Regions from separate parts of the Homo sapiens genome. Here region 1 is linked to region 2. Evidence: fine-mapped expression QTL. Tissue or cell type: whole blood. Region 2 holds a variant in brackets; the other region holds the start of a gene. All regions are shown on one strand. Distances are from middle to middle.

What was found. PIP is the estimated chance that this variant, and not a neighbour inherited with it, causes the effect.
Region 1: TOP6BL starts here. The variant in region 2 is fine-mapped to the expression of TOP6BL in whole blood (TOPMed, PIP above 0.99).

Annotation. Positions count from the first base shown.
Region 1 is chr11:66,740,518-66,748,616 of GRCh38, forward strand. TOP6BL (TOP6B like initiator of meiotic double strand breaks) reads left to right here and starts at 4,252. Exons shown (of 15, transcript NM_001302084.2): 1 at 4,252-4,402. It also overlaps a transcript of SPTBN2 not described here. RefSeq lists enhancers at 3,479-3,979, 4,471-4,580, 5,021-5,110 and silencers at 3,941-4,330, 4,741-4,840.
Region 2 is chr11:66,710,640-66,718,742 of GRCh38, forward strand. It overlaps SPTBN2 (spectrin beta, non-erythrocytic 2), which reads right to left. Exons shown (of 38, transcript NM_006946.4): 4 at 5,191-5,342; 5 at 4,583-4,756; 6 at 3,677-3,768; 7 at 3,452-3,532; 8 at 2,992-3,107; 9 at 278-390; 10 at 1-130. It also overlaps the pseudogene RN7SL12P. Among named protein-coding and RNA genes, the nearest start is that of SPTBN2, 15 kb to the right of the region's middle. The variant C/T (reference allele first, on the strand shown) is at 3,154.

The DNA of each region.
Region 1 (8,099 bases), 30 kb after region 2:
TGCTCCAGGTGGAGAAGGCCTCAAGAAGGTGAAGGGATGAGCTAATCTGAGCCTCATGGCCCCATTTCCAAGGATGTGATTAGTGGAGAGTCACCTGGGACCTGCTCCATTTCAGGAAACCCGGTTATGGGAACTGGTATGGGACAGACTTTGCTCAGGACCCGAGAGAAGCAGTTAACCCTTTCCTACTGTCTGGATGGGAAACAGCTTAATAGTTGCTTGGTTCTTTCCCAGGGGAGGGAGTCTTCAAATGGACTTCCTTTTGCATCAGCTTGGAAAGGCGGACCTCAAGGATATTTTCTACTTAAGTTCCTAGGGTCAGCCTCTTTAGGGCATTTGAAAGCTCTAGGGGAGCCTAAGAAACAAGGTGGGGCCTTAAGAAGTGTCTAGGAGACACAGAGAGGGCACATTCAAAAGGAAAGCTCAACAGTCCCTAAAATGTCATTGTTCATCTGGCAGCACTCCCTAGGATGTTCTGGTTCCACTCAAACCCTTGAGTTTGGGTCAGAATCAGTCTTGGGCTCTTCTTATAGGGGGGCAGGGAGTGTGTCTCAGACAGAGGGTTTCTTTTTGGAATAAACAAGATATCCAAAGTAGACATGTGATATGGTTTGGCTGTGTGACCATCCAAATCTCATCTTGAAGTGTAGTTCCCATAATCCCCATGTGTCATGGGAGGGACCAGGCGGAGATAATTCAATCATGGGGGCAGTTTCCCTCATCCTGTTCTTCTGATAGTGAATTAGTTCTCAAGAGATCTGATGGTTTTATAAGGGGCTTCCCCCTTCACTGGGCACTCATTCTTCCCCTTCCTGCTGCCATGTGAAGAAGTATCTGTTTACTTCCCCTTCTGCCATGATTCTAAGTTTCCTGAGGCCTCCCTAGCCATGATGAACAATGAGTCAATTAAAACTCTTTCCTTTATAAATTACCCAGTGTCGGGTATGTCTTCATGAGAATGAACTAATACAACATGAAACAGTAATATAAATTCTGAGGTGGGTGCAGAAATGGAAGCAGAATCAATATGTCACCCAGTCTAAGGACTGGAAATAACTGGCTCCCTACAGACACTGCCAATAAATGAGACCTGGAAGGCCAGGGCTGAAAATATCGAGAGCCATACTCAAAGCCTCCTTGGTTGGCCTAGTTAACTAAGGTGACCTTAACCAAGGGCAGGTCATTTAGTTTCTTTGGGCTTCAAATTTCTTCATCTTAATAGATAACTGATAATTTCCAAAGTCCCTTCTGGCTCTAACATTCTAGTGTTCTGAGGATGAGGTCTGAGCAAAAAACCGTTTTTAAAATTTTAATTTTTTTTTTGAGACAGGGTCTTGCTCTGTCACTAAGCTGGAGTGCAGTGGCATAATCATAGCTCACCGCAACCTCCAACTCGAGGGGCTCGAGATCCTCCCACCTCAACCTCCCAAGTAGTTAGGACTGTAGGCATGCATCACTGTACCTGGCTAATTTTTAAATTTTTTTGTAGAGACAGGCTGTCACTATAATGCCCAGGTTGGTCTCAAACTCCTGGCCTGAAACAATCCTCCTGCCTTGGCCTCCCAAAGTGCTGGAATTACAAGCATGAGCCACCATGCCTGATTTATTCATACAACTTCTTCTTGGATTCTCATTTTTATCATTTCTAAAACAAAGATAACATCTTTCTTACAAGATTACAAAATTGGGAGAACTGCTTAAGATGAATAAGAAAAAGTGAAGAGCACTTAGCACAGAGTGGATTCTCACCATATATCAAGCCTATATTGCATGCTGCCTGAATACGTGGGTTTACGCTACGGAAGTCCTGATGGCAAACCCTCATATCGAAGGCTTCCCTCCTTGCTTCTCCCTATGTCCAGTAGGGAGGACAGCTGTGTCCCTGGCTACCTTTGAGAGGCCTCCACTGCCTCTAGGGTGGTATTGGGTGCTCCATTACACCTTTATCCCTGAAGTTCATTCCAAGGACAAGGGCTGAAAGCTAGAGGCTCATTTCCAAGGACAAGGGCTGGAAGCTAGGAAACCAACTCATCTTCATTCTCAATGCCATTCTCAAGGTGGAGCATTTTCTGCTGGGCCAACACTCACAATGATAATTTTTTTTTTTTTTTAGACAGAGTCTCACTCTGTCAGCCGGGCTAGAGTGCAGTGGTGTGATGTCAGCTCACTGCAACCTCCACCTCCCGGGTTCAAGCAATTCTCCTGCCTCAGCCTCCCAGGTAGCTGGGACTACAGGCACATGCCAACACGCCTGGCTAATTTTTGTATTTTTAGTAGAGGTGGGGTTTCACCATGTTGGCTGGGCTGGTCTCGAACTCCTGACCTCAAATGATCCACCCACCTGGGCCTCCCAAAGTGTTGGGATTACAGGCGTGAGCCACTGCGCCCGGCCACGATGGGAAATATTTTAAAGAACCATCCTCAATACCTTGGTTTCTCACCCATAAAATAGTGACGATAACAATTTTCTTACAAGATAGTTGAGAGGATGACATCATTTATGTAAAGAGCTAGTGGGGTCCGACAACAAGCAGTCATTCAATGTTACTGGTCCCTTCCCCTTGGCAACTCCTCTTCTGAAAAAGGACAAGAGACTGGGGGTGGGGATGGGGAGCTCTGCGGGGGGTGTGGGGGGAATGAAAGGAAGACTCCAATGATTCCTCAAATGCCAGCTGTTTATCAAGTTTGATGGTTACGATGGATTTTCCAGAAATAAAAGCTACCTTGCTCCAATAGGTCTACCTGTGAGCAACTGAGATGGGGAGGAATGGGGAGGAGCGCTGAGCATAGACTCGAGAAGGGTATGATTCAGGTCTCGATAGACAATGTTCTTTGGAGTAGCACCAAGGTTGTGTACTGGGCAGGCACTCTGCCAGCTCGCCAGCCTGTTCTGTCCAATCCTGGCGTCTTGGAGCTGGGGTGGAAGAATTTTTCCTGAAGGAAAGCAGCCAACACCCTGTCCCACCCTTCTCCTTGGGCAACTCTTTGCCAGGCAGGAATCTCTCATCAGGGTTTTCTTTTGGCTGTCAGATCACCAGCAGTTATAGGCTTAAGCCCCTGTCACCATGCCCCTCCCGGAACCTGGCAGAGAGCAGCAGCTGGGACTCTGCAGGACCTCCTTATTCCAGCCAGGAATGCACTTGGAAAACCCCAGAGCTTCTCCTGTCAGCCAGAGCCCAGAAAAGCCAGCTCCTGGTCTTGGCACATTCAGTGCAGTCAAACGTGGAAAGGGGCCTGGATAGGGAGGGGTCGACTCCCAGGTCCCACCTTTGCGGGGGAAGCTGGTCCCCCTGGATTAGGCTGGGAGATGCTTGGGGCTGGTTGTAAGGTAAAAGACGGGGGGTCGTTTTTTCTTTTTTTGAGACAGAGTTTCGCTCTTTTTGCCCAGGTTGGAGTGCAATGACGCGATCTCGGCTCACTGCAACCTCCGCCTCCCAGGTTCAAGCAATTATCCTGCCTCAGCCTCCCGAGTAGCTGGGATTACAGGCGCCCGCCACCACGCCCGGCTAATTTTTGTATTTTCAGTAGAGACGGGGTTTCACCATGTTGGCCAGGCTGGTCTCGAACTCCTGACCTCAGGTGATCCACTCGCTTCGGCCTCCAAAAGTGCTGGGATGACGGGCGTGAGCCACTGCGCCCGGCCCAGGGCGTCGTTTTTAATTTCAGATTAGTAATTTTTTAGTATATGTCCCAAAAATTGCCGAGATATGTGTATGGTTATAAAAAAAATTCGCTGTCTATATGAAATTCAATTTTAATTGGCCGTCTTTTTCTTTGCTAAGTCTGGGACCCAGGGCTTGGCCTGGGGCAGCCCCCGCCGCAGACAAGGCTGTTGGAGGGGTCACGAACCCGCTTGGTAGCCCCGCGCCGTTACCGTCGCCCCTCCCGGCCGAGGGAAGGGTCCTGGAAAGCGCGAAGGGCGGCCAAAGCCCGGATTAGGGCCAAGGGCCGCATCTCGCCGCCACCGTGGGAAACTATCTTTGAGAGGAGGGAGGAGTCGTGGCCTGGCCTCATTCCCGCTCACCTCCAGCCTTGGCCGCCTCTCGCGGGCTCTTCCCCGCCCCGAACCTCCCACCTGCGGGCCCACTGGCACCCGCGGCGCTCAGAGGCTCTAGGTGGCTCCCGGCGGCGGTTCGCGGTCTCGGGGCCCTGCAGCGTCGAGTGCGCAGGCGCGGCGGGCAGGTGGGCGGGGCGTGCGCGGGCGCAGGCGCGCGCGCGGGAAGGGATGGGCTCGCGCTGCCGGGCGTGGGCGTGGACTCGGGCGTGGGCACTGGCGGAGTTCCAAGCCCGGGCTGAGGAGGGGGCGGCGGCGGCGGCGGCGGCGGCGGGCGGGTACCCTTCGACTGGGCGTTGCCGCTGTTCCCTGCGCGGCATGGAGGGGACGGCCGTGGCCGTGTTCGAGGTGATGCTGGGAAGGGAGAGAAAGCGGAGGACACTTTCTGAGGAGACGGGCTTTGTGAGGAGACCGCGAAGTTTGGGCAGAGGGGTCGGGCGTCGCCTAAGGTGAAGGAGGAAGGTTCGGGAATCGAGGCCCGTCTCCCACGGGGAAGCGAGGAAGTAGGAGCAGATGAGGGCTCTCGCTCGCGGGGTACTCTGTGGGGGAACGACGCCCTCTCTCCAGCCTACGGCTCAGAAAGCTGCGGCGTTTGCCGAGCACCGGCGGACACCCAGGGGCAGAGCCTGACGCAGCCTCGGAGGTGCCTGCCGGAGCCCAGCGCCTTCCATGCACCGGGTGCTGGGAGGGGGCGCGGAAAGAAGGAAAGGAATGGGGCAAGCCCTGGCGTTGCGGGGCGGGGTGGGGGGAGTCGGGGCGCCAGGACAGAGGCAAGGAGGGACCCAGTGCAGACTGGGAGCGAGGGAGAGTTTTTTTAGGCCCCGGTGCAGGTGCAGGTTTCTGGGTTCGAAGCAGCTGGACGTGGAAGGGCGAGGTTCAGAGGCCACACCTGTGCTCGGGGAGCTGCTCTGGAAGACGGCACTGAGCGCCTGGCGCCGGCCACGCCCCGTGTGCTCATTTCATTACCCACTTTCACGGCCGGTGCCCAATGGGACGTTGAGCTGCTGTTTGTGAGGGGTACTGGGCAGGTGACAGAAGCACAGGCTCTGAGGGCACCTGAGAGAGTACCCCCGGGCGTCCTGCCTGTTTGTTGTCATCAAAGAAGGCGGCGGGATTCCATTTTACAAATAACCGAACCTAGGCTAGAACCCAGGGCGCTGACTCATAGGCCAGTGTTCTTTTCCCAACTGCGCTGTCATACCGACATGAGAATATCTTTAGGGTTTGTTTGTTTGTTTGTTTGTTTGTTTGTTTTTTGAGACGGAGTCTCGCTCTTTCGCCCAGGCTGGAGTGCAGTGGCGTGATCCCGGCTCACCGCAGTCTCCGCCTCTCGGGTTCAAGGGATTCTCCTGTCTCAGCCTCCCGAGTAGCTGGGATTACAGGCGCACGCCGCTACACCTGGCTCATTTTTGTATTTGTAGTAGAGACAGGTTTTCACCATGTTGGCCAGGCTGGTCTTGAACTTCTGACCTCAAGTGATCTGCCCGCCTCCGCCTCCCAAAGTGCTGGGACCGGCGTGAGCCACCGTGCCCGGCCCGATATGGGAATATCGTAACAGAGGACGTGTGAAGGAATAGTTAGACTCTACACGTACCTGGAAACCATTCTTGTTAACTGGTACAAATGAGGATCTTAGTTCCCAGATCTCCCTGCCTTTAAAAAGGGGGTAATAATTTTCCTTGTGTTGCCTCCCTGTAAAAGTGAGAATCTGTTTGCATGAATAATAATGGGAGTTGGCCGGGCGCGGTGGGTAGCCTGTATTCTCAGCACTTTGGGAGACCGAGGCGGGCAGATCACTTGAGATCAGGAGTTCAAGACCAGCCTGGCTAACATGAGGAAACTCCGTCTCTGAAAAAAATACAAAAATTAGCGGTGGCTCACGCCTGTAATCCCAGCACTTTGGGAGGCCGAGGCAGGCGGATCACCTGAGGTCGGGAGTTCAAGACCAGCCTGATCAAAATGGAGAAACTCCGTCACTACTAAAAATACAAAATTAGCCAGGTGTGGTGGCACATGCCTGTAATCCTAGCTACTTGTGGGGCTGAGGCAGGAGAATCGCTTGAACCCAGGGGGCGGAGGTTGCAGTGAGCTGAGGTCGCACCATTGCACTCCAGCCTGGGCTACAAGAGCAAAACTCCATCTCAAAAAAAAAAAATTAGCAGGGTGTGGTGGCAGGCGGCTGCACTTCCAGCTACCTGGGAGGCTGAGGTGGGAGGATCACCTGAGCCCGGGAGGTTGAGGCTGCAGTGAACCATGATGATGCCATCACTGCACTCCAGCCTGGGAGTCAGAGTGAGACTCTGTCCCCTCTCTCCCCCCAAAAATAAATGAAATATATTTTATTTTCAATTTGTCTCGAATAAATGTGTTTTTTTTTTTCTTTTTGAAACGGAGTGTTGCTGTTGCCCAGGCTGGAGCGCAGTGACCCAATCTTGGCTCACTGTGGCCTCCACCTCCCGAGTTCAAGCAATTCTCCTGCCTCAGCCTCCTAAGTAGCTGGGGCTACAGGCACACACCACCACACCCGGCTAATTTTTGTATTTTTAGTAGAGATGGGGTTTCACCATATTGGCCAGGCTGATCTTGAACTCCTGACCTCAGGTGATCCACCGCCTCAACCTCCCGAAGTGCTGGGATTACAGGTGTGAGCTACCACACCCGGTCGATTAAATGTTTTACCCAGACATCTTGGAGTCCTGTTCAACTTAAAATATTGTGTGTAGTCTTTACTGCATTAGAACTTAGAAATAATAGCTAATATCTGTTAAGCATTTGCTATTTGCCAAGTACTGTGTTAAGCATTTTGCACATATTTTTATTTAATTTTTTTTTTTTTTTAGTAGAGATGGGGCCTCACTATGTTTCCAGGGCTCAAGCGATTCTCCCACCTTGGCCTCCCAAAGTGCTGGGATTACAGGCATGAGCCACTGCGCTCAGCGTTGCACGTACCTTATTTGTTTACTTTCAGCAGCAGCCCTATGTGGTAGTTTTATCCCCATTTTAATAGATGAGGAGTCTGTGGTTTGGAGAGATTAAGTAATTTGCCCAAGGTCACATGCTAGAATTTGGCACATCAGGGATTCAAATCCAGGTGTGGAGTGCAGTGGCCTGATCAGGGCTCACTTCAGCCTCAATCTTATGGGCTCAAGAGATCATCCTGCCTCAGCCTCCCCAGTGGCTGAGACTACAGGCACACGCCACCACGCTGGGCTAATTTTTGTTGTTGTTAGTAGAGATAAGGTCTGCGTATGTTGTCCAGGCTGATCTCAAACTGTTGAGCTCAAGTGATCCTCTCACCTCGGCCTCCCAAAGTGCTGGGATTGCAGGCATAAGCTACCGCGCAGGGCAGCATTAGCACTCTTAAATAGTATTCTGACCCTCAAAAGTGTTGATTTAATGAAAGATCAAGATGATTCATAACCAGATGCCACTCTTATTCATAGTCTTCATGTTGGCTTTTATTTGGGGCAGGAAAAAAGAAACAAGAAAAACAAACTCCCACTTAATTTTTCCCTAATTATTATTTCCAGATGAATTTATCTTCTGAATAAAGGAATTTATTGTCTCAATTTCCTGTCTTACTGGGCATTATGTTGAATTTCACTGACTCTTTTCTTATGTCACTCTCCTAGCTATTTATTTTGTTTAGACACAATACTCTGAACAAACCTAAATCTGACATTTTAGAAGCAAGAATACAATTTTTGGGGGGAAATTAGAGTTACTAATTTAACTGGGTCATAGAGATGTATTATTACTGTGATTTCTAAAGAAGATTATGTTTTCTTTGAATTGTGCTCTTTTCAGATTTTGAGATTTTTAATAATTCACTGGAAGTGTGACATAGATGTATCAAAGGGAGCATTGCTAGAAGGGCAGCTAGTGATTTCCATAGAAGGATTAAATTCTAAGCACCAGGCAAATGCTCTTCATTGTGTAACAACTAGTAAGTAGAGAAAGAAAAAATATTTTCTATCTCTTTTGTCATGGTTTATGTCGTAGCTTATTTAAAAATTTCAATTAGAATCTTTTATCATGTTATTCC
Region 2 (8,103 bases):
CGCTAAGGGAGTTGGCCAACTGCCGGTCATTGAGGGTCACGATCGTTTGCTCGATCCACTGCAGCAGCTCCGAGGCCAGGGACTCGTATTTCTCCACCAGGCGCTCTGCCTCCATGGCATGGTCCAGCACCTGGGAGGCAGAAGACAGGGACGTGACAGTCCCAGCCACAGGGTCCCTGGCCCAGTCCTGCAGCTCCACCCTGCCCTTGCACTAGGGCAGTAAGACCCCTCAGCCGGGCCTCCTCTGGCCTTTATGCCTACTGCCCATGGACAGTACCTTGCCAATTCTCTTGCCTTCCACGGCCAGGGCCTTCATCTTGGAGAAGTAATGGTAGTAAGTAGCCACATAGGTAATGATTGACTTCTCATCTGGCTGGTCCACATTCACGTCTGCAAGAGAGGACCATTTGGGTCAGGCCTCCCAGAAGTTCATCCATAACTTGCATCACTTACCCCAAACCCTGGGCCTGCCCAGTCCTCCAAGGCTGACATCTCTCCATCTCCTTTTAGAGCAAAATGACAACTTACCCATTCAAATGAAAAGGGCACCAAAAAGCTCATCTTTTTTTCCCCTTCTCCTGGAAACAAGAAGGGCCCTCCAAGCAGAGCACAAACCCCAGAAGCACAAGGAAGCTTTTACCCAGAGTTCCCCGTGGAGACCAAAATCAGTTGTTTGGGGAAGAAAAGCAAGAAAAGAAACAGCATTGCTATGTGGGGATGGATCATGGACTTTTAGGCTAGAATAATGTTTAAGAAGTCAATGGATTGAGGGGCAGTGGGACGGAAGGTATGAACTAAGCCTCCTGAACCTAGGATGCTCAGATCGATGGGCCCTGTGATCCCTGCAGCTCAGTGGGGACAGAGGCCAGCTCTCAGCACCATCTCCAGGTGTGATCACGCCGTTTCTAACCTCAATCCTAAAGCTCAGCTGTGGGCCCAAGGAGGGGAGTGTCTTTCAAGCCGAATTGGCTTCCAGCGCACAACTGAGGCTGACCATAACTTGAAATCTGTGGGTTCTTTTAAATAGGCCAGATTTTATCCTAAAGGTAAGACTATGAGACCAGAAGCCTCTTGCCTATTTCTGGAAATACATGGGCAGGCAGGAGCCACTGAAGTCATCTCGGAAAGTTACAGAATGCTTAGCTTTATTTCCAGGTTCTGAATTACAGCCATGCTACCCAGAGGCTCTCCAAGGAGCACTGCATGAAGCCTATGTCTGTTGCTAGCTCGCTGACACTTGTCATTCTGCAGTAAAAAGGCCCAGGTGATAGGGCTACAGGTAGAATGGAAAACAGGGAGAAAATGGCCAAGACCAGTGAACATCCACCCAGTGAACTTAAGGAGCACCTCCAGCAGGCGAGCCTTTCTCTCCTCCCTGTTCTGGTTGCACCAAGATTGGTCTCCACTTTCCCAGAGGCAGCGGAGGAAACAGGCTCTGGAGCCAGGCTGCCTGAACGCCAATCTCAGCTCCATCTGCCGGAGGACCTGGGCAAGTTGCTTACCCATTATAGGCCCCCATCTTCTCTTCCATAAACTGAGGATAACAACAGTACTGATTTCAAAGGGGTGTTGTGAAGATTAAAACACATCAAGTGCAGAACCAGGTATCAAATAAGAGCCTAATCGCAGTCAGGCGCGGGGGCTCACACCTGTTATCACAGCGCATTGGGAGGCCGAGGTGGGCGGACCACGAGGTCAGGAGTTAGAGACCAGCCTGACCAACATGGTGAAACCCTGTCTCTACTAAAAATACAAAAATTAGCCGGGCGTGGTGGGATGCGCCTGTAATCTCAGCTACTCAAGAGGCTGAGGCAGGAGAATTGCTTGAACCCAGGAGGCGGAGGTTGCAGTGAGCCGAGATCGCGCCATTGCACTCCAGTCTGGGCAACAGAGTGAGACTCCGTCTCAAAAAAAAAAAAAAGAGCCCAGTGGCTGTTACTGATCTCATCGATCTCATCGGCATTATGACCAGAACCACAGGAACCAATCAGCAAGGTCAGCTGACTACAGGCCAGTTCTGGGTGAGAGTGGAAGGTCATGCAGCTTAATTTTTTTTCTTAAAAATTTGTTTTAAAAAAATAGAGATGGGTCTCGCTGTTGCCCAAGCTGGAGTACTGTGGCTATTGACAGGTGTGATCCCACTACTGATCAGTGTGGGAGTTTTGACCTGCTCCATTCTGACCTGGACTGGTTCAGTCCTCCTTAGGTAACCTGCTGGTCCCCTGCTCCCAGGAGGTCACCAGTGCTGAATTTAGTGTAGATATCCAATCAGCATAACCCACTGCAGCCTAGAACTCCTGGGCTCAAGTGATCCTCTCGCCTCAGCCTCACTAGCAGCTAGGACTATAGGCAGGTACCACCGTGGCCAGCAACATGTAGCTTAATTTAGAATCCTAGAATTTCAGAAGAGCCCTTAGAGACCAATTCTCTCTTTTAAGACATGAGGAAACTGAGCCACAGAGAGGCTAGCCACTGGCTGTATGTCACAGAGCTCCTCTGTGCTCTGCCTGGGACACAACCCACAGTCCAGGGCTCTTTCTGTCACTGGGCTGCCTTTCTTCCTACCTACAGTCTTTTGTTAAAAAAAAAAAAAACCTGAGAAATGATTGTCACACCATAAAATTCAACCTTTCAATGTATATAATTCAGTGGTTTTCAGTGTAAAGATATATATTTTTTTTGGGGGGGAGGGGTAGTCATGGGGTCTCACTATGTTGCCCAGGCTGGTACCAAACTCCTAGGCTCAAGTGATCCTCCTGCCTTGGCCTCCCAAAGTGCTGGGTGTGAGCAACCACGTGTTTTTCAGTATATTTACAAGGTTGTGTAACCATCACCACTTTCTAATTCCAGAACATTCTCTTCCCCCACCAAAGAAGCCCCTGTATCAGTTGGTGGTTACTCCATGTCTTCCCCCTCCGCAGCCCCTGGCAACCACTGGTCCACCTCCTGTCTCTACCCTACCACCTCTTTTTCACATAGCTCTGGCCCCACCTTCGGGATCCAGCAGCTTGGTAAGTCCCAGTTCCTTTTCAGCCAGATTGAATGCATTCTGCAGATTATAGTGTGCATTACACTTCTTCAGAGACTCAAAATCCAGCAGGTCTGGCCTGGGTGGGGAGGCAAGACAGAAGGGATCAGAAACATGTGAGATCT[C/T]GAAGAGGAAGAGGAAACCCACACCAATCTTTATCCCTAAGTCACCGACCCAATTTTGTCCAGAAGTAGGCATCCCAAACCCACACTGCTGCTCACAGCCCCTCCCCACACCACCTCCCCTGCTTCCCATCACAAGTGCTCTGCGCAGCCCTGCACCCCCATGTTCTGGTTCTGCTCCGAGTGCTATTCCTTCCGTCTGACTGCTGTGCAGCTCATCTCATCTCTGTCTCCACATGTGCACCCCAGGTCATTAGCCGACCCAGCAGCTCTGCTGCGTTTGCTAACCCCATCTTCTCACCGGTGTTTATGCACGATGGCGTTGAAAGCTAGTCCATCTCTCCAGCTGGTGGTGAAGTTGTGTACATTGACGTTGGGATAACTATAAACAGAGATTCAGAAAATGGTGAGTAGGGCTGAGCTCTGTTCTATGACTCCAGGGCAGTCACCAGCTCATGGTTCCTGGAGCCCAGCACAGCCTGGGGGTCACTGACCCTCCAGTGCCACACGCCCAGGGTGTCCTCACCCTGCAGTCTTCATCTGGCACCACAGAAGCAGGGCATCCTTGGCTGACTTCTTCTCCTTGTTGTCTTCTGTCTCCACACTGATGTCTTGGATCTAGGAAGGAAGCAAGCAGGGCCCTCAGTCCCTGGACAGGAACTCCTGGTGTTATCAGAGATGCTCAGATAAATGGCAGGAAACTGCTCTTTAGACTGTGGTAATGGGGTGGACAGGCATAGCCTGAGGTCCTTTCAACCTAGGCCAGGGACCACAAAACACTGGGTGCAAGGGATTTGAGGCAGCAGATTAGGGTAGGATGCTGAAGAATGGGTGTGTCTGAGTGGAGGGTGCTGGTCCCTCCAGGTGGGGAACTGCAGGCAGAAGAGTGAACATTTTCTGAGAGCTGGCTCTCCAAGGTCTCTAAAAGCTGGCTCTCCAAGGTGAAGCCGACAGAACCCGGGAAGGAAGGGGGTGATCAGGAACGCTGTGATGGCATGAGGACACTGGGGCATGAGGAGGAGGAGGGTGACTGTTCCATTGGGGGAGGCAGGCAGAGTTTATGGCAGGGAATTGGTGCCAGTGACCAGACCCTCTAGAAGTTCCCAAATCCCTGTGGTGAAGGACCAGTTGGTAAAACTTCCAGTCTCCTGTGGACCAACCTGTGGTCCTGGTCCCATTGCACACGACCAACACACAGACCAGAACACAGGGAATTTGCCACAGGGGTGTGACATTCACCCAAGCTGGTTTCTACCCTGCTGAAAGAGGGGAGTCCACTGATCTGGTGCTTGGATAGCGCCGCCATGGCAGCTGCTACATAAGGTTCTAGATCCTCCATCTTTGTGTTTGTTGTGTCATGGGCCAGCAGGAACGGCTTGCGGTGCAGAGCCAGGGCAGGAACCACACCCTGTGTGACAGTGTGCTGGGGTACCTGGAATCGAAGGATGATGGTCCAGACCAGCCCAAGGGTCAGTCGGTGGTTTCCGTCCACAATGTCATGGGAGCCCATGTTTTCCAAGTGCACTTTCTGCTCCTTGAGGAACTGCAGTGCCTTGTCCACGTTCTCCAGGCAGTGGATCCGCATGCGGCCCTTTGTAGGCTTTGGCTGTGGAGGGACGGGGGCAAAATGGCACGGGACTGTGGGCTTCCACCTTCTTCCCCAGCCTTCACAGGGCCCAGCTTTGCACACCTTCCCCATGACCTACCTCAGGAACACAGACAGGCACAGCCCCAGGGCTGGAGCCAAAGCTGAGCTTACAGATGAGGCTTGGGCAGATTAAGATTCCCAAGGGAATTAATTGCACCCAGAGTAGGTGGGAAAAGAAATGTTTTCAATGGGGCCACTGTTCCTGTCTCCATGAAGCAATGCTCCTATGTAATCTAAGTGGCAAAGGCACTTGAAATGAACCCATCCTCTGAGCAGAGGGAGCCACTGCTTCCCGCCCTGTGCCGTCACTCTCTCTGAGGGCTGTTCTTCCAGCTGGTCCCCTTGGACACTTTTCTAAGGCCCCCCCACTTCCCTTCATGACCACAGCTCACCAGTATCTCTCCCGAGAGCACCTCGAGGAGCCTCAGCAGGTTGCGTCCGTCCCGGAGGTCGCTGTACAGGTCCCCCACCCGGCACGTGACCCGGGCCAGGTGCGAGTTTACCCACTTGGTGAAGGTTTTCTTCTGCACAGCTTCTCGTTCATCTGTGGTGGCAACATGGGTTTATTTCTGTCCCTCGAGTTCAGTATGCCTGCTTCTAAACACCAGTTGGCAGGGGTGGGGGATGGAGAAGCCTGAGAGATGGGAAGCGGGGTCCTCTAAGGAGGAGGAAGGGAAGGAAGATGACCGGGAGGAAAGCCCGTAACTTGCAATGAGCTCATAAGCAAGGTAAAGAAGAAAGATGAAAGACAGAAAATAGGCGAAGGTTGGGTGTGGTGGCTCATGCCTGTAATCCCAGCACTTTGGGAAGCCAAGGCGGGCGGATCACAAGGTCAGGAGATCGAGACCATCCTGGCTAACACGGTGAAACCCCGTCTCTACTAAAATTACAAAAAATTAGCCGGGCATAGTGGCGGGCGCCTGTAGTCCCAGCTACTCGGGAGGCTGAGGCAGACTGACGTGAACCTGGGAGGGGGAGCTTGCAGGGAGCCGAGATTGTGCCACTGCACTCCAGCCTGGGCGACAGAGCAAGACTCCGTCTCAAAAAAAAAAAAGAAAAGAAAAGAAAAGAAAATAGGCTTTGAGAAGAAAGGATGAAGACCTTTCATCCTCAGAAACCATGGGACATGCAGGGAGGGGCTGGGATGGGGCAGTCGTGGAAGCAGTGGAATGCTGGTCAAGTGACTTCATTCATCAGAGCCCCAATGTCTCATCTGTAAAATGGGAACATCACTTTCTACTTCAACAGGTCATTGTGTTGATTAAATGAGATAAGGTATATAAAACAACTAGTTGGTGCCTGGCACAAAATGGCTCCTTGGTGAGCTGCTGTTATAAAGTGGTGTGATCTGGCCCGAAGGAGAGCAAGAGCTGCCCAGGCCGGTGGGAGGTATGGCTGTTCTCTTTTGGTTGCAGACAAAGGAGAAGGTGTGGGCTAAAATTATTGCAGCGGCTCTTCCAAGCGGTCATTAGGACTTGATGGTATAGAGGCTGCAGGCCTCCTGAGTCAGCTTACTGTCCTTGGATAACTTAAAGAAAAGGCAGGCTCCTCTGCTTCTGGGGGTTGGGGACAGTACATTCAGCTGGCTGCAAGGGGATCCAGTTCCAGGACATAAACACCCCATTGCTTAGAAGAACAAGATGTTGAGAGTTGGGAACTGGGAAAACAGTGAGGCCAGGAAACATGGGGGAAAAAAAGCCAGGCAGAGTTAGGTACCAATCTCAAAAAAAAGTTAGGCAATGCCCTGCTGCCCAGCCCACAGGGGAGGGGAGCTACTGAAGAGGGGAAGTAAATACTAGGTTCCGTAGGAAAATAAAAATTAAGAACGTTCTAAGTGACAAAGTGAAAGCATCAGAAACTGCTCTGGTGATGAGGATTTCTGCCACTTTCCCACAGAGAGCCCTGTGCAAGGACCCAACCCAAGTGGCTGGGGTCTGAAGAGTCACTTTTGCTTCCGTCTCAGCACCAGCATCTCAGAAACCGGAAAGACTCATCCCTTAATCTCACATTCCTAAGCACCTCACCCATAAGACACAGCAACACACCCACGTCGCTCCGTGTCTTTCACCTCCAGCCACTATACTGGCACCAAACCTGGGGTCCTAATAACATGGGACGGCCCCATGCTCCCCAGCACCCATGAAACCAAGGTGCCTTGGGGCCTCCCGGCAGGTCTACAGGCCCCATCTGAGCCAGGAGGAGCGTGGGTCACAGGCCATTGCTGGATCCAGGGGCACTGCCCTACTGCTGGGCACCCTGGGGTGAGGCCATTTTGGCACACAGTCAGAAGACACAGAATTAGTGGCAACTAGGAGGAAAATGGGCAAAGCCAAGCACCAGAAACCAAGTGTCACGTCACAAGACGCCCACAGCATCCCTAGATCCTTACACACACACACACAACAGTGATTCCCAAAAACACACCTAAGCACTTGTGCCAGAGTGAACACACACCTGCGCAGACATCTACCTGGGCCTGTTTGCACAGATCCTCTCCTTCGAGACACTCCCTTTGCTTCCACACACACTGCCCCCGTGTACACATTCAGACACACGCTCAGAGGCCTGGAAAACACAATCTCCAGGTCCCTGGGCCTGGCTCACCCCTCCGCCTCCCCTAACTGTCCTGGCCAGCGCTCCACCGCCAGATCCGGATCCACCTCAGAGGCACTGCTGGCGCCTCCCCAGGTGCTGGCACCCCCACGCCCTCCATGGCTAGTTGCCTTTGCTCCATGCAGCACCCCAAGGCCCGGCAGTCACACCCACCCATGCCATCATACACGGTCCCTGCCAGCAGGTCCAAGCCTTTCCCCATTCCGTTGACATCTGTGTATTTTCCGGCCTCTTGTAATTATCCCCTCTAAGCTGCATCACGTTGTCTCCCAACACAAACACTGGAGTCACACTGTGTCCTGTGCCAGGTCCTCAGCTCCGGCCACTCTCCCCACACCCAGGTCCCTCTCGCCCAGGCACAGTCGTCCCCACAGGGGGCCCCCGGGCCTCACCTTGCAGCTGTTTGAAGCGTCCTTCCAGCACGCTGGCATACTGAGCAGGGTTGATGAAAGCAGCTGGTGAAAGCAGGAGGCCCCCGGGGTTGTGGGCCCCTTCCACAGCCTCATAGTAAAACTCGCTGGCCTCATGCAGGCCGTTCCCGTGCACCCTGCTCACTCCGTTCCCATTCATGCTGCCAGCTGCTAGTTACAGAGCCCAGGGCCCAGAGTCCATGCTCCCCGCTGGCAGGGGGCCAGTTTCTGTTCCCCAGTGGAACCTCAGGCTGGAGTCCAGCGTCAGGGGATTCAAGAATG